3 linked regions of the Homo sapiens genome follow. The protein of the gene in region 1 interacts with the protein of each later gene in a biochemical or structural test. Each region holds a gene or a part of one and is shown on either strand. Other genes may lie near its edges.

Region 1 (3,790 bases):
CCAGTAGAGGCACCCAGCCAAAACCTGCCTGCTGTTTTGGGGCTGGATTTGGTAGACGCAGCAGAGGGCATGGCTGGCTCATCCTGATGCCATCCCGGGTAGCACGTCCCCACAGCCAGCCCTCCTCCAGCTTCCCCAACTTCCCAGCCACAGGGAAGGCCGTGCATGAGCTAGACAACCACCCTATTTTCTTTTCCCTGCCCGGTTTTGGTTTTTTGGGAAAAACAAATCCTGGCAGGGACTGTTTGGAGAGACCTGATGGGAGCAAGTTGGGCAGGCATGACCCCTGGTATTTTATCTTCCAGCTATTCCGCGAAGTAAGAATAATGAAGGTTTTGAATCATCCCAACATAGGTGAGCACAAGTTGTTATTTCTTTCTTCTTCCCCAACAGCAAGGCACTGCTTTCCAGCATGTCATCTTCTCCCCGAGGTGCACTGCCTTCTGGAGTCTGCAGTCTTCAAGGATACCCCTGGGGAAGCTCAGCTCAAAATCCATCTCCCCTTCTGGCACACTGGGCTGTCTTTAGCAGTTTGGCTGGCATGAGAGGAACTTGTTCTTGGGAGTGGGGGATCATGAAAGGAGGGGAGACTTTCGTTCCTAGGATGCTCCTGGACATGTTGGAGAGCAGTATGTGGCCCCTGTTGCTTCTTGACTTAAGGCTTGGCCTTTTCTCTTGTAGTTAAATTATTTGAAGTGATTGAGACTGAGAAAACGCTCTACCTTGTCATGGAGTACGCTAGTGGCGGTAGGTGTGGAACTGCCTCTTCCTGTTGTGCCCCCACTTCTTCCACCTCCAGCCAGCTCTGACTGAGATCCCTGCCTGGTCTCTTACAGGAGAGGTATTTGATTACCTAGTGGCTCATGGCAGGATGAAAGAAAAAGAGGCTCGAGCCAAATTCCGCCAGGTAGGTGTGACTCCCTCCATAGGAGCTAGGCCTGACCTCTGCTTTTGGGGTTTGACATGTAAGGATAAGCTGCCTGTCTGTAAGTGGCCCTTGGAGGGTACTTTGGGCTCTGCTTATCCGTGTGGCAGGTTAGCACTAAGTCACAGGGTCACTGCTCTGTCAGCCCCTGTGGCCCACCCTCAGGCACCCCTGGGTTAACCCTTCTTCCTTCCTTTCAGATAGTGTCTGCTGTGCAGTACTGTCACCAGAAGTTTATTGTCCATAGAGACTTAAAGGTAAGGCATGCACTTCTCCTTGTGCCTTTGAGTGGGAGCCAGGTTGTTGCCTCTTGGTTCTCCATGATAAAACCATCAATAACCATCAGGCCCTGAGTGTTCCAGGAAACTCCAGCCTTTCTTTTTTTCTTTCTTTCTTTCTTTTTTTTTTTTTGAGATGACCAGAAAGCCCCTAGGGCTGCCTCTGATAGAGGCCTTGTGGCTGGACCTCGGGTTCCATTCTAGCCCTTGAGCAGGGGCCCTCTGCCATTTCACCTCTTGGCACATCACCTTTTAGTGCTGCCAAGCAAGGCAGGCACACTCCAGGCTTTCTCAGTCTTTCAGGCAACCTGGTAGCTGACCCAGGGAAGAGTGCTGAAAGTTCCACAGCTGTATCCCAGCTGCTTTGCAGGCAGGCACACACATACCATCTCCATCACCAAGATACTCAAGTTTGAGGACACCTGTGGGTCTCTTGGCTGCTGAGTCCTCACAGACATGATTTGATTAACCTGGGCCTGATGCTGAAGCTTTGCACAGCTCACAGGGTCTCTGGGCCTTCAGATCCCATCTCTCCCATGGCTGCCCACGTGAGGAGTGGCCTGCATTGCCTTCCTCCTGCCCAGCCTATTCACGCTGATTGAAGCCCTGCCCTGAAATTGGTGGAGAAAGTTCTGAGACTGAAGATGACTTTCCGTTTGTTCTCCCATTCCCCTCAGCTCCTTCCTGCCCAGGGCCTTAGTCTGGTCCACTTGGTTCCCTGATGTTTTCCATCTTACCTCCCAGGCAGAAAACCTGCTCTTGGATGCTGATATGAACATCAAGATTGCAGACTTTGGCTTCAGCAATGAATTCACCTTTGGGAACAAGCTGGACACCTTCTGTGGCAGTCCCCCTTATGCTGCCCCAGAACTCTTCCAGGGCAAAAAATATGATGGACCCGAGGTGGATGTGTGGAGCCTAGGAGTTATCCTCTATACACTGGTCAGCGGATCCCTGCCTTTTGATGGACAGAACCTCAAGGTGGAGTGAAGTGCAAGCTTTTTATTGCTTCTCATTTCCTCTCGGCCTCTGGTCTTAGCCCTGACCTCCTGCCTTTGCCACCTGTCTACATTTGTCCCAAGCCAAAGCTTCAGAGAAGGGCTTGCTGAGGTAGCAGCAGTCAAAGGCCTTCTGCACCTGGGAATGAATAACCTCAGTTCCTTTCTCGAAAGATGGGATAAACTGTGTGTGTGTTCATCCCCCAAGGCACTCCGGATTGCAGGCCTCGGACTGGTCAAGTTAGAGGGTACGAGGGTATTTGACTTCACTTGCCTCTCTGGTGAGGTGTCTTGTCCCCAGGCTGTCTGCCTTCTTCCATATTTCATTTATGTCTGCTTTGCCAGGCTTAAGCTCTCAGGATCTTGGATATTAGGTTTCTTCCTTTGGCCTTGGGGTGATTTCAATTTTCTAACCCTGGATCCTCCTGCAGGAGCTGCGGGAACGGGTACTGAGGGGAAAATACCGTATTCCATTCTACATGTCCACGGACTGTGAAAACCTGCTTAAGAAATTTCTCATTCTTAATCCCAGCAAGAGAGGCACTTTAGAGGTGAGCAGTGGAGCCCAACTGGCGGAAGGGCCTGGGGTCCCCACAGAAACTTTCCAGCTGAGTTTCTTCCCCCTGCCCTTTTCCTTCTCTGTGCTCCCCAGCAAATCATGAAAGATCGATGGATGAATGTGGGTCACGAAGATGATGAACTAAAGCCTTACGTGGAGCCACTCCCTGACTACAAGGACCCCCGGCGGACAGGTGAGGCTGTGCCGGGCTGTGAGGTTAAGCTTGCCTAGGAGTTGAGGCCAGTCTTAACTGTATGTCCCCCTGTGCAGAGCTGATGGTGTCCATGGGTTATACACGGGAAGAGATCCAGGACTCGCTGGTGGGCCAGAGATACAACGAGGTGATGGCCACCTATCTGCTCCTGGGCTACAAGAGCTCCGAGGTGTGTGCTCCCCGCCCCATTCTCTGACCTGGCCAGCCTCACTGTCTGTAGCACCTATGCTTCTAACACCTGTTGAGGGCAGAAGCTCATCTCTGAGTAGGTGTGCTCTCTGCTCACCAATTTTAAGCCTCAGCTTTGGTGTCTAAGGTCCTCTGGCCCATTCACTGATCTCCATGAGTGAATTAATAGAAAGCTGGTAGGGTCGGTGTGGGACTGGGTCAGAGTTTCAATACGGGTGAGTTGATCTAGGTTAGTCTGCATTGATTAGATGTGTCTAGGTCATCGGCTAGCACTACTACATTGATCTAGATATCTTTGTGTCTCTTTTTGTATCTGGAAGTGTACATTTCTGGGTGTGTGTGTGTGTCTCTGTGTGTGTCTGATCGGAAGTTTGAGTCTGTTGCTTTTTTTTTTTTTTTTTTTTTTGAGACGGAATTTCGCTCTTGTTGCCCAGGCTGGAGTGCAATGGCAGGATCTTGGCTCACTGCAACCTCCGCCTCCCGGGTTCAAGCGATTCTCCTGCCTCAGCCTCCCAAGTAGCTGGGATTACAGGCATGTGCCACCATACCCGGCTATTGAGTCTGTTGCTTCTGTCTAGTGCTTTATGTTTGGGTGTGTGTATCTGTGTGTGTGTGTGTGTGTGTGTG
Region 2 (2,751 bases), on another chromosome or scaffold:
TTCGACCAGGTGGCGCAGCTGAGCTCCGCAGCCCGTGGCCTGGCGGCCTCGCTGCTCTTCCTGCTTTTGGTCAAGGTGAGGGCTGGGCCGGTGGGCGCGGGGCTGGGCGCACACCCCAGGGCTGCAAGCAGACAGATTTCTCGTCCGCAGGCTGCCCAGCAGCTACGCTTCGTGCGCCAGTGGTCCGTCTTTGGCAAGACATTATGCCGAGCTCTGCCAGAGCTCCTGGGGGTCACCTTGGGCCTGGTGGTGCTCGGGGTAGCCTACGCCCAGCTGGCCATCCTGGTAGGTGACTGCGCGGCCGGGGAGGGCGTCTTAGCTCAGCTCAGCTCAGCTGTACGCCCTCACTGGTGTCGCCTTCCCCGCAGCTCGTGTCTTCCTGTGTGGACTCCCTCTGGAGCGTGGCCCAGGCCCTGTTGGTGCTGTGCCCTGGGACTGGGCTCTCTACCCTGTGTCCTGCCGAGTCCTGGCACCTGTCACCCCTGCTGTGTGTGGGGCTCTGGGCACTGCGGCTGTGGGGCGCCCTACGGCTGGGGGCTGTTATTCTCCGCTGGCGCTACCACGCCTTGCGTGGAGAGCTGTACCGGCCGGCCTGGGAGCCCCAGGACTACGAGATGGTGGAGTTGTTCCTGCGCAGGCTGCGCCTCTGGATGGGCCTCAGCAAGGTCAAGGAGGTGGGTACGGCCCAGTGGGGGGGAGAGGGACACGCCCTGGGCTCTGCCCAGGGTGCAGCCGGACTGACTGAGCCCCTGTGCCGCCCCCAGTTCCGCCACAAAGTCCGCTTTGAAGGGATGGAGCCGCTGCCCTCTCGCTCCTCCAGGGGCTCCAAGGTATCCCCGGATGTGCCCCCACCCAGCGCTGGCTCCGATGCCTCGCACCCCTCCACCTCCTCCAGCCAGCTGGATGGGCTGAGCGTGAGCCTGGGCCGGCTGGGGACAAGGTGTGAGCCTGAGCCCTCCCGCCTCCAAGCCGTGTTCGAGGCCCTGCTCACCCAGTTTGACCGACTCAACCAGGCCACAGAGGACGTCTACCAGCTGGAGCAGCAGCTGCACAGCCTGCAAGGCCGCAGGAGCAGCCGGGCGCCCGCCGGATCTTCCCGTGGCCCATCCCCGGGCCTGCGGCCAGCACTGCCCAGCCGCCTTGCCCGGGCCAGTCGGGGTGTGGACCTGGCCACTGGCCCCAGCAGGACACCCCTTCGGGCCAAGAACAAGGTCCACCCCAGCAGCACTTAGTCCTCCTTCCTGGCGGGGGTGGGCCGTGGAGTCGGAGTGGACACCGCTCAGTATTACTTTCTGCCGCTGTCAAGGCCGAGGGCCAGGCAGAATGGCTGCACGTAGGTTCCCCAGAGAGCAGGCAGGGGCATCTGTCTGTCTGTGGGCTTCAGCACTTTAAAGAGGCTGTGTGGCCAACCAGGACCCAGGGTCCCCTCCCCAGCTCCCTTGGGAAGGACACAGCAGTATTGGACGGTTTCTAGCCTCTGAGATGCTAATTTATTTCCCCGAGTCCTCAGGTACAGCGGGCTGTGCCCGGCCCCACCCCCTGGGCAGATGTCCCCCACTGCTAAGGCTGCTGGCTTCAGGGAGGGTTAGCCTGCACCGCCGCCACCCTGCCCCTAAGTTATTACCTCTCCAGTTCCTACCGTACTCCCTGCACCGTCTCACTGTGTGTCTCGTGTCAGTAATTTATATGGTGTTAAAATGTGTATATTTTTGTATGTCACTATTTTCACTAGGGCTGAGGGGCCTGCGCCCAGAGCTGGCCTCCCCCAACACCTGCTGCGCTTGGTAGGTGTGGTGGCGTTATGGCAGCCCGGCTGCTGCTTGGATGCGAGCTTGGCCTTGGGCCGGTGCTGGGGGCACAGCTGTCTGCCAGGCACTCTCATCACCCCAGAGGCCTTGTCATCCTCCCTTGCCCCAGGCCAGGTAGCAAGAGAGCAGCGCCCAGGCCTGCTGGCATCAGGTCTGGGCAAGTAGCAGGACTAGGCATGTCAGAGGACCCCAGGGTGGTTAGAGGAAAAGACTCCTCCTGGGGGCTGGCTCCCAGGGTGGAGGAAGGTGACTGTGTGTGTGTGTGTGTGCGCGCGCGCACGCGCGAGTGTGCTGTATGGCCCAGGCAGCCTCAAGGCCCTCGGAGCTGGCTGTGCCTGCTTCTGTGTACCACTTCTGTGGGCATGGCCGCTTCTAGAGCCTCGACACCCCCCCAACCCCCGCACCAAGCAGACAAAGTCAATAAAAGAGCTGTCTGACTGCAATCTGTGCCTCTATGTCTGTGCACTGGGGTCAGGACTTTATTTATTTCACTGACAGGCAATACCGTCCAAGGCCAGTGCAGGAGGGAGGGCCCCGGCCTCACACAAACTCGGTGAAGTCCTCCACCGAGGAGATGAGGCGCTTCCGCTGGCCCACCTCATAGCCAGGTGTGGGCTCGGCTGGAGTCTGTGCAGGGGCTTTGCTATGGGACGGAGGGTGCACCAGAGGTAGGCTGGGGTTGGAGTAGGCGGCTTCCTCGCAGATCTGAAGGCAGAGGCGGCTTGGGCAGTAAGTCTGGGAGGCGTGGCAACCGCTCTGCCCACACACCCGCCCCACAGCTTGGGCAGCCAGCACACCCCGCTGAGGGAGCCCCATATTCCCTACCCGCTGGCGGAGCCGCTTGATGTGGCGGAGCCGGGCAATCCACTTGGAGGGGTAGATATCGGTGGGGTTGGAGCGGCTATGATGCACCTGTGAGGCCATCTGGGGACGTAGGCAGGGG
Region 3 (3,790 bases), on another chromosome or scaffold:
GGATGGTGGAAAGCACAGACTGGCACTCCAGGCCCCATCCCCACTTGACTGGAGTTGATTTGTGAGTTGAAACCCAGATGCCATCTATGGATTATACCCTTGCCACTGAAGAAGACATTTCTGGAGACTTCTGCAAAAGCCCAAGCTTGGAAAACCACCATGATGAGCTACAGAAGCTGCTGCCTTCACTGGCAAGGGGCTTGCTCTGACCATCCTGCTGACCAGGGACACTCAAACCTGCCTCAGAGAAGAGACCGGCACCATTCCCAGGGGAGGGGGCACCCCGATCCCGGCCACAGCAAATTCGTGAATGCCCAGTGTGCACTGGGGTAAAAAGGTCATTCAGATAGAAGTAAATTCACGGAGATCTGAATATTCTTTCTAATGATTGTGCCTCTGTTGCTGTTGTTTTAATAAAGAAAATTTTCCTAAGAAGATACAGCATTTCCTAAGAGAATGAAAGCGCAGTGGGAGAAAATAGATTTGCTATTCATAAGATTAGAAGTGCTGTTGATCTGTGGGAGATTATAAGAGACTATTTTCTCCACAGCTTAGCATTCGTCTTTTCACGCTGATATCATGAATCAGAATGAAATGTAAAACTGAGAATTAAGCAAACATTTAGAAGAAGGAGATTGTTCTGTTTATAGAAATCTCCTCTGCCTAGCTGTGGGCTATTAAGGCAGCAGACTACATTAGCAGTCAAGCACCTAAAAGTTTAGCAATCATATGATTAACAAGTTGAAAATAGAAAAGTATAACAAGGAAAATAGAGAGGGAGAAGGCAGTGACCTATATTATAACTAATTACCAAAACAGGAATGCTAACATCAAAAACTGTGGGTGTGGACTCAACAGTTTCGGCATCAGGGCCACCTGCTCGCTGTAGGTGGGGTGGCCACCCGTGACCCAACAGACTCACCTCCTCCATCCTGGTCACCCTGATGTCCGGGCTGGCTGACTGCACCATGATGCGGGGCACGGGCTGAGGAGGCAAGTGTGCAGGTCAGGGGTCGAGAGGACAGAACAGGGGTAGCAGAAAGGTTTCCGCTGCACAGGCTGGAGGGCCAGGACCTGCCCGAGGGGAATCGGCCCATCAGGTGTGCGAGTGTGAGGGGCTCCACACCCTCCAAGGAACAAGGGACCCAGCAAGGGGCTCCTCCCCCAGCCAGGGAAACAGGCCACATGCCAAGATCACCAACACACATGGTGCACTTACACACACGACGCTCTCTCCCTCCCTCCAATCACATATGCACATGTGAACCGAGGACTGGGCCTGTACAGACAAGCATTATGAGACAGGAAAGATACAGAAAGACTTCCGGCAGGAGGTGAAAGCCATGCCAGGCTCTGATGGCTGGGGAGAGGAAGGAGTGTAGTCACAGGAGGGGAGGAGGAAGGAGGCCAGGCTGGCTGGAGCACAAACCCAGAGCCCAAGATGGCAGGCACAGGTCTGCAGAAGGCCCTGGGCATCGGAAACTAACCCTACTCAGGAGAGGAAGGGGGTCCCCACTGAGTCCTGAGCAAAGCAAGAAGACAGCTGAAGGCCAGAGACACTGTCCGGGTGGGGACACAACATGACCGGAAGAATATTTAAAGTCCAAAGAGGCAGATCAGTAATGCAACTCCAGTGACAGAGCAGGGGGAGGAGGTAAGAGCCACAGGAAAGGGCCTGGTTACTTGTGGACACATGGGCCAGGGAACATTAAAGAGACAGAGTTAAGAATCATCAGAGCCAGGAAAAGGGAAGCCTCGGGGAGAGAAGGAACCAGAGCATCATTCTGTTGCTGCGGAGTGGCTGTGGGACACAGAAGCAGCCGAGCAGATGTGCTCATCCCAGAAGAAGCTGGGAACATGCCACTTCTGCCCCTCCCCCTCCCCCTACCCGACTGCAGGAACCAGGCCTGGCCTCCCATGCTGGGCTCTCATGAGGGCTCCATTCTGCCAGGACAGCCGCGGGTAGGGCTTCTTTCTTGTTGGGTCCACAGGGCACAGCTGGTGGCTGCTCGGTTACTGAACTTTAACTGCCCAGAGATGTGGACTCCACGTCTCCCACCTCCCTTCTCCCAGCCCTCGGCAGTCCTGGTGCTTTGGCTCTTGTGCGTCTGGGCACTTGAGGCCTCGATGGAGTCAGGCCTTCTAGACAGAGCCTGCAGGCGCGAGCCACACCGCCCAGGCCTTCCTTCCTACTGGGGAGCCTGGACTCCAGCTGTAGGGAGAAGAGTCCCGAAGAAGCCAGCCCGCTCAGCAGGGTGCTCACCATGTTTACAAGCATGGAATAGCCTCGCTTCACCTGAGGGCACCACTATGACCACTCGTGCCTTGGGGCTGCTTTTGGAAGAAAAGTATAAGAGGGAATTGATTCCACAGAAGGTAAGGGGGCACTGGCAGGATTTGAGAAAAGGTGCAGTGGAGAGGACTCGAGAGGAAACGCAGCGATCAGGCTTAAAGACCTGGAAGGACTGGAGCCAGATGTGGTGGTGCACACCTGCAGTCCCAGCTCCTCAGGAGGCTGAGGCAGGAGAATCACTTAAGCCCAGGAGTTGGAGGCTGCAGTGAGCTATGATCACACCACCACACTCCACCCTGGGCAACAAAGCAAGACCCTGTGTCAAAGAAGAAAAAAAGAAAATAAGGTGGAAGGACCAAGGAAATGAACAAAAGGAATGTGTACTTTACACTGCAACCACTAGGGAGTTCCTGGGGTGGTCTGAGGCCCAGGACAGCTAGGACCAGGGTGCATTAAAGATTATGTGAGCAGCCAATGGGACAGAATGAGGGAGGGTCCCCTGGTGGCAGTTAGGCCATTGCACATGACAAGGCCTGAAGAACAAGACCTTCAGCCTCCACCTCAATTCCTTGACCAGAACAGTCTCCCCTCTGCGCCCCTCCCAGCACTCAGCTCCTTCTGTCCCACTACTGCTCTCCACGGCCCCGCCTACCGCCATCTCCCAGAGAAGAAAGTGAGGCTCAAGCACGCGTCCCACACTGCCACGCAGTCCTCGCATGCCAGGGCTCGTATCTTCATTTTTCTGCCTATAGTATTTAACGTCCCCACAAATGGGAAGGTGTTCAAGGGTATATTTCATGACAAAAGCAGAAAAAACATTTCTCAAACTCCAAAATACTTGCATTCTTCACTACATCTTACCTAAAGTGGACAAGATTGGGGAACAACTGTTTCCACAAAGGTGAAGTTTATTCCCCTTAAAGCCTAAAAATGCAAATACCCCAAGGATGGGATGTTAAGCGCCTAACATGAAACCTTTTCTAAAATCACATGATTCCTGCCCTCTGAAATAGAACATGCAAACAAGTTACACTTTCCTTCAGGACCCAGTGTGATTAGAAAAACCCAGTAGATAGATGCTTATTAAATATTTGCTGAAATGGATTCAGGGACTCGACTGACTGCCACTTTGGTTCTCACTCTCCATGTAAAAAAGTTCAGCTCAACAGAGACTGCACCAGGTCCTACCATGCGGGGGGCGTGGCACCAGGTGCCTCAGGCAACATCAGCATCAGAGGCATGGGCTTTGCTCTCAACAGATGGGCAACCTGATTGGTGGGGAACACATAAGCAAATCACTAAAATCAAGGAAGGTGACAGTGGAGTGGAAGCTTCAAAAGCAGAGAGGAGGCCAGGCACGGTGGTTCACGCCTATAATCCCAGCAGTTTGGGAGGCCGCAGCAGGAGGATCACCTGAGGTCAGGAGTTTGGGACCAGCCTGGCCAACATGGTGAAACCGTGTCTCTACTAAAATCCAAAAAAAAAAAAAAAAAATTA

Evidence for each region.
Region 2: of the proteins of MARK2 (region 1) and PKD1, one has a biochemical effect on the other in vitro, tested with the Homo sapiens proteins (one study listed by BioGRID).
Region 3: the proteins of MARK2 (region 1) and KIF13B form a complex in vitro, tested with the Homo sapiens proteins (one study listed by BioGRID).

Annotation. Positions count from the first base shown.
Region 1 is NC_000011.10:63,897,927-63,901,716, forward strand, and holds part of MARK2 (serine/threonine-protein kinase MARK2), read left to right. Parts: intron 1-305; coding exon 306-354; intron 355-681; coding exon 682-747; intron 748-836; coding exon 837-907; intron 908-1,125; coding exon 1,126-1,182; intron 1,183-1,947; coding exon 1,948-2,184; intron 2,185-2,632; coding exon 2,633-2,752; intron 2,753-2,853; coding exon 2,854-2,953; intron 2,954-3,030; coding exon 3,031-3,143; intron 3,144-3,790. UniProt on the Homo sapiens protein: Serine/threonine-protein kinase. Involved in cell polarity and microtubule dynamics regulation. Phosphorylates CRTC2/TORC2, DCX, HDAC7, KIF13B, MAP2, MAP4 and RAB11FIP2. Phosphorylates the microtubule-associated protein MAPT/TAU.
Region 2 is NC_000016.10:2,088,208-2,090,958, reverse strand, and holds the end of PKD1 (polycystin-1 isoform 1 precursor), read left to right. Parts: coding exon 1-75; intron 76-150; coding exon 151-285; intron 286-368; coding exon 369-674; exon of another isoform or gene 675-764; coding exon 765-1,232; 3' UTR 1,233-2,251; downstream 2,252-2,751. Other genes in the region: TSC2 (tuberin), read right to left, coding at 2,349-2,513, 2,634-2,732. UniProt on the Homo sapiens protein: Component of a heteromeric calcium-permeable ion channel formed by PKD1 and PKD2 that is activated by interaction between PKD1 and a Wnt family member, such as WNT3A and WNT9B. Both PKD1 and PKD2 are required for channel activity.
Region 3 is NC_000008.11:29,074,359-29,078,148, forward strand, and holds part of KIF13B (kinesin-like protein KIF13B), read right to left. Parts: intron 986-3,790; coding exon 923-985; intron 1-922. UniProt on the Homo sapiens protein: Involved in reorganization of the cortical cytoskeleton. Regulates axon formation by promoting the formation of extra axons. May be functionally important for the intracellular trafficking of MAGUKs and associated protein complexes.